2 separate regions of the Homo sapiens genome follow, and region 2 is linked to region 1. The links come from fine-mapping of genetic effects on gene expression. A gene starts in region 1. The other region holds a variant in brackets. All regions are shown on one strand. Distances are from middle to middle.

Region 1 (2,749 bases):
CCAAGGAAAGGAGGAAGCTTGGGCACCCTGAGGTCACAGCTGGCCTTGGGGTAGCCCCTGGGGTCCCTGACAGTCTAGCCCATTCCTAGTCTAAGCCCACAAGGAACGGGCCCCAGGCCTGCAGAGGCCAGAACCTCGAGTGGGAGTTTCTGGGATACAGCCAGCCAAACCCAGGGAGCCCCAGAAACCCCCTCTCCAGACCCCAGCAGGGCTTCTTTCCATGAGGTGCCACTCAAGGCACCTGAACCCCTCCCTCTGTGCTCACTGTCTCTGACCCATCCTCTCCCTGACCACCCGTCTGAACAAGAGCCCACTCAGCCCTCTGCACTGAGGACCCTGCCCCCCAGCTAGGCTGGAGGCCACCCTGGCCTCTTCACTGTGGGAGCAGACCTTTCTCCCAGACACCCGCCTTGGGCATCCAGGTGCATGCTGAGTGGGAGGGGTGTTACCGGTTCATGAAATGTCAGAGCCCAAGGGGGCCTCAAGAAGGCTCCGCCCACCTTGTCTATAAATTGGGAAACTGAGGCATGAGAGAGGAGATGACACTCCCCACCTCGGAATTGAAGTCCTCATTTCTCGAGAACATTTCCTGGGTGGCTCCCAGCCCAAGGTCACGCAGAGAAGGAGAGGCAGTTCCCGGGTGGAAGAGAGGTACTCAGTTCCCGACTCATCGCTCCACACGGGCCGGGCTAGGCAATACGAACCCGGTTCCCGGCCCTCTCCTCCTCCAACGTCCATCGCAGGCGCGGCATGCACCCCACCGAGATGGTCCACGCCCTGATCCACCCCCCAAAAAAGGCCACCTTAAACCCTGGCTCCGTCCCCACGGTCCCCAGTCCGCCCTGGCGGCCGCGCACAATCCGAGCCTTTCGCGGCATAGCCGCGGCCTGGAGGTCACAGCAATCGGGGCGGGAAGGGGGGCGCACGAACCGGGGGCCCCAGGAAACCAGGGCTCCGGGAGCCGGAGCGGCGTCTCCCGCGAGCACCAGGGATCCCGCCCGCCCCGGGCCCGGGAAGGAGGAGCGGCGGCAGCGGGCCCCGCAGGCAGGACAGCTCCTCGCCCGCCGCCGCGCCGCCGCCGGGGGCCCGTTGGGGTCGGGGTCGGGGTCGGTCCGGGCGCGCCGCCTTTGCTCACACCCCCACCACCCCGGCCTGGCAGAGCCGTCGGCCAGTCCGTCCTTACCCAAGACACGACGCGCAGGATGGTGTGCGGCTGCCGGACCAGGGTGTAGGGGTCGAAGGCGCCCCCGGCTTTGCCCGCTCCGTACGCACCCCCTTCCATCGTGGCTGCACCCGCGCGGTGCCCCCCGCTCGGCGCGCGCCGCCGGCCCGTGCGCGTGCGCGGCGCCCCCGCCCCCTCCCCTGCGCGCGCGGCCGGCGGCCCAGGGCTCCCGCGAGGGGGCGTCGTGCGCGGCGGGCGCAGCTCGCGGGGCGCGGGCGGGGGGCTGGGCAGCGCGCGACCTCGGGCGCGGGGGCGCGCGTGCTGCGGCCCGGGGCTCAGGGCGCGCTCGCAGCCAGTGCGGTGACCTCTTTGCAAAGTGTTTGGGGGAGGGCGGTGCGTGCACAGCAAGTGTGGGCCGTGTCCCTGCCCCGCATCCCCGGTCCCCTGCCCCGGTCGCAGCCCCTCTGAGCCGTCGGCTCTGCTGAAACCATCTTCACGCTTGATTTGTTTGGCTGTTTCCTGCCACTTTGTCGGCCCCAAATATAATGAGAGGGCAGGAGCTGTGTTCGTCCTTCTTAGAGGGTGCTTGGTACGCAGTAGGCGCCGCATGAATATTTCTCGAATGAATGAACCACGAGTGAATGACCCTCTCTTACAGCCCTCCAGAGCAGCCCCCACCTCCCAGGACCACCCTTCCCCTGCCTCTTACGATGACGTCATGTGTGTCCCTGTGCCCGCGCACCCTCCCACCCCCAGCCTGGAGGGGCCTGGCACAGAGGCGGCGGCTGAGACTTCCTCTTCCCCATCCCCTCCTACCCCAGAACGTTGCCCCTTTCCTGAATCTAGCAATTAATTACGCAATCATTTGTTCATGGCCTCTTCTGCTGCTAGTCTGTGAGCTCCCGAGGCCCAGGTGTTGTCTAACTTATTCAATGCCTTACCCAAGGGCCTAGCATACAGTAGGTGCTCAGTAAACAGAGCCTAGTCCCCATCACCCCATCACAGCTTGGGCTAGACCTCCAGGTTTCATGGAAACGGAGGCTAGATGGAGGAGTGCTCCCTGCAGGGGAAGGGCCACCTTCCAGGGCTGGCTCTCCTGCTGCCCTGTAGCTCTATGGCCTCTCTATGTCTGCAGTCACCTTCACTGGTTCCAGGAGCAGGTTGGATGAGGATATGGGTGGAGGCTTTTGCTTCTCTGGTATCCTGCCATTCTGTGATGACAGGACACAACATCTGTGTGGAGGAAATGTGTGCTGGGCCTGAGGGTGCTCCTTATAAAAATTACATAGTCAATGTCCATCTTAGGCTCAGCTGATTGTTTAGTCTCTACCAGGCCTTGTGCTAAGGGCTTTACATACATTTTCACATTTAATCCAGCACACTTATAAGGTGTCTACTATGACTATATAAAACTTTTAGAAGAAAGCACAAGAGAAGGCCGGGCGCAGTGGTTCACGCCTGTAATCCCAGCACCTTGGGAGGCCAAGGTGGATGGATCACAAGGTCAAGTGATTGAGACCATCCTGGCCAACATGGTGAACCCGGTCTCTACTAAAAATACAAAAATTAGCCGGGCGTGGTGGCGAG
Region 2 (3,010 bases), 23 kb before region 1:
GTGGGCAGCATGGGTTATTTTGGGGTCCCAGGCCCTGTCCTGGTCCCATCCTTCCTGCTGCCAGCCATGTGACCCTGAGTCCATCCCTTCACCCGCCTGCACCTCATTTCCTCATCTGAAACATGGGAAGAAGGGTGGCAGCCGCCTCCTATGGCCGGGACAGCCCTCTGTAGACTCTGTGCAGGGGGTACCTGCTGGGTGGGGCTCACCCGAGACACCGATGTCGGACAGGACGGCTTTCTTGCGGTCCTTGACGCTGCTGATCTGCGGGAAGTACACGTCCAGGGCCAGGTACAGCAGGCAGGTGAGGAAGGCGAGCACGCCCACGGCCACGCCATAGCTGCAGGCGTTGGGGTTGCGGTTGTAGATGCAGAACTCCTCCCCCTCGGAGGCGCTGTTGAGGTAGCCCTCGTTCACGATGGAGCCGAACACCACTATGGAGAACAGCTGTCGGGGGTGGGGCCACACCTTAGACCTGGGCAGACCCCTGCCTCACACCACCCAGGGGACGGGGAGGCTGCCACCCTCGCCTGCTGCCTGGCCCTCCGTGAGCTACAAGACCCGGGTTAAGCAGGCATTTCAGAGGGGGATCCCCAGAGAGGGAGGGTAACTTATGTGGGTCACATAGCACCAGGTGGGGGTCAATCACTTCCTTCCTCAGCCACAGGCACTGAGGACTCTCTGACCATAGATGTGGCCCCTTCCAACACCCCTCAGCCAGGTCCTAAAGGTCTTCCTGGGCCCTGACACCAAGATATCCTGGGACTGGACCGACTCTCAAAGAACAAGGAGCCACAGGCCCTCCTGGGCTGTGGACCTGCCCAGCCCCCACCCCCAGGCTGACTCCTCCAGATGCTGGCATGTGCCGGGCCCCATCTTGTGTTCTCCTTCCCTCTGCAGAGCTGTGGGCTGGTCTGGGGTCTCAGGCCCCTACCCAGGCCTGGCAAGTAGATGGAGTGATGAATGAAAAAATAACAGTGGGCTGGGGGTGGTGGCTCATGCCTGTAATCCCAGCACTTTGGGAGGCCAAGGTAGGAGGATCACTTGAGCTCAGCAGTTGGAGACCAGCCTGGGCAACATGGCAAAACCCCGCCCCTACTAAAAAATAAAAAAATTACCCAGGTATGGTGGTGCGTGCCTGTAGTCTCAGGTACCAGGGAAGATGAGGGGGAGGATCTCTTGAGCCCAGGAGGTGGAGGTTGTAGTGAACCGTGATCATGCCACTGCACTCCAGCCTGGGTGACAGAGAGAGGCTCTGTCTCAAAAAAACAAAACAAAGCAAAACAAAAAACTCTCGGGCCAGGCGTGGTCGCTCACGCCTGTAATCCCAGCACTTTGGGAGGCAGAGGCGGGTGGATCACGAGGTCAGGAGTTTGAGACCAGCCTGGCCAACATGGTGAAACCCCGTCTTTACTAAAATACAAAAATTAGCTGGGCATGGTGGCGGATGCCTGTAATCCCAGCTACTCGGGAGGCTGAGGCAGGAGAATCACTTGAACCTGGGAGGTGGAGGTTGCAGTGAGCCAAGATTAAGCCACTGCACTCTAGCCTGGGCAACAGAGCAAGACACTCTCAAAAAAAAAAAAATCTATCTATGTGTGTGTGTGTGTGTGTGTGTGTGTGTATTAAATAGAAAATAACAATAGACACAATCCTGCCAGATACAGGGCAC[C/A]CTGCATGATCCCAAGGGTATATTACACATGCTATCTCACTGACCCCACTACAGGATATGGCAAGAAGTGATGGGATATCACTTCTGGGAGTAAGTGACAAAGGATTTCTGCCTCCATCTTGCTCGTCCTCTTCTCCCCCACTCCCTGGTTGCTCTGATGAAAGCTGTTGTGTTTTGGACTACCCTTTGGAAAGACTGCATGGCAAGGAACTGAGGGTCTTTAGCCAACTGCCCACAGGGAACTGAGCCCCTCAGTCCAACACCCACAAGTAATTGAATCCTGCCAATACCATGTCAGTGAGCTTAAGAATGGATCCACCCAGGCCAGGCACAGTGGCTCACGCCTGTAATCCCAGCACTTTGGGAGGCCGAGGTGGGTGGATCACCTGAGGTCAGGAGTTCGGGACCAGCCTAGCCAACATGGAGAAACCCTGTCTCTACTAAAAATACAAAAAGTAGCCAGGTGTGGTAGCACATGCCTGTCATCCAGCAACTTGGGAGGCTGAGGCAGGAGAATTGCTTGAGCCCAGGAGAACTGTTTGCTGGGCCTGGGCGGAGGTTGCAGTGAGCCGAGATTGTGCTATTGCATTCCAGCCTGGGTGACAGAGAGAAACTCCGTCTCAAAAAAAAAAAAAAAAAAAAAAAAAAAAAAGAGCTGGGCGTGGTGCATGGTGGCTCATGCCTATAATCCCAGCACTTTGGGAGGCTGAGGTGAGCAAATCACGAGGTCAGGAGATCAAGACCATCCTGGTTAACATGGTGAAATCCTGTCTCTACTAAAAATACAAAACATTAGCTGGGTGTGGTGGCACGTGCCTGTGGTCCCAGCTACTTTGGAGGCTGAAGCAGGAGAATCGCTTGAACCCAGGAGGTGGAGGTTGCAGTGTGCCAAGATCAACCCCACTGCACTCCAGCTTAGGCAACAGAGTGAGACTCCGTCTCAAAAAAAAAAAAAAAAAAAAAAAAAGAATGGATCTACCCTCAGTTGAGCCTTCAGATGAAACCACAGCCCTACCTGATGCTGTGATTATAGCCTTGTGAGAGACCCTGAGGCAGTGGCACCAAGCTTAGCAGATTCCTCACCCACAGAAACTGTCAGATAACAAATATTTCTTGTTATAAGCCTTATGTTGTAGGGCAATTTGTTGTGCAGCAATAGCTTGCCAATACATCCTGCACCATCAGCATTTTGCAGATAAGACAGTTAAGGCTCAGCTATTGTTAACACACCCAAAGTCACACAACTGGTCAGTGACAGAACCTGGCTTCAAACCCAGGGTACCTGACTCTAAAGTTCACGCTTTTTGGCTGGGCATGGTGTCTCACGTGTGTAATCCC

The links. PIP is the estimated chance that this variant, and not a neighbour inherited with it, causes the effect.
Region 2: its variant is the best candidate, but not a certain one, in a credible set for the expression of SYNGR1 in monocytes (Fairfax 2014, PIP 0.57).

The regions. Positions count from the first base shown.
Region 1 is chr22:39,348,544-39,351,292 of GRCh38, reverse strand. SYNGR1 (synaptogyrin 1) reads right to left here and starts at 1,302. Exons shown (of 4, transcript NM_004711.5): 1 at 1,184-1,302. The coding sequence starts at 1,282. RefSeq lists a silencer at 1,096-1,255.
Region 2 is chr22:39,371,753-39,374,762 of GRCh38, reverse strand. It overlaps SYNGR1 (synaptogyrin 1), which reads right to left. Exons shown (of 4, transcript NM_004711.5): 2 at 210-447. Among named protein-coding and RNA genes, the nearest start is that of SYNGR1, 23 kb to the right of the region's middle. RefSeq lists an enhancer at 334-849. The variant C/A (reference allele first, on the strand shown) is at 1,673.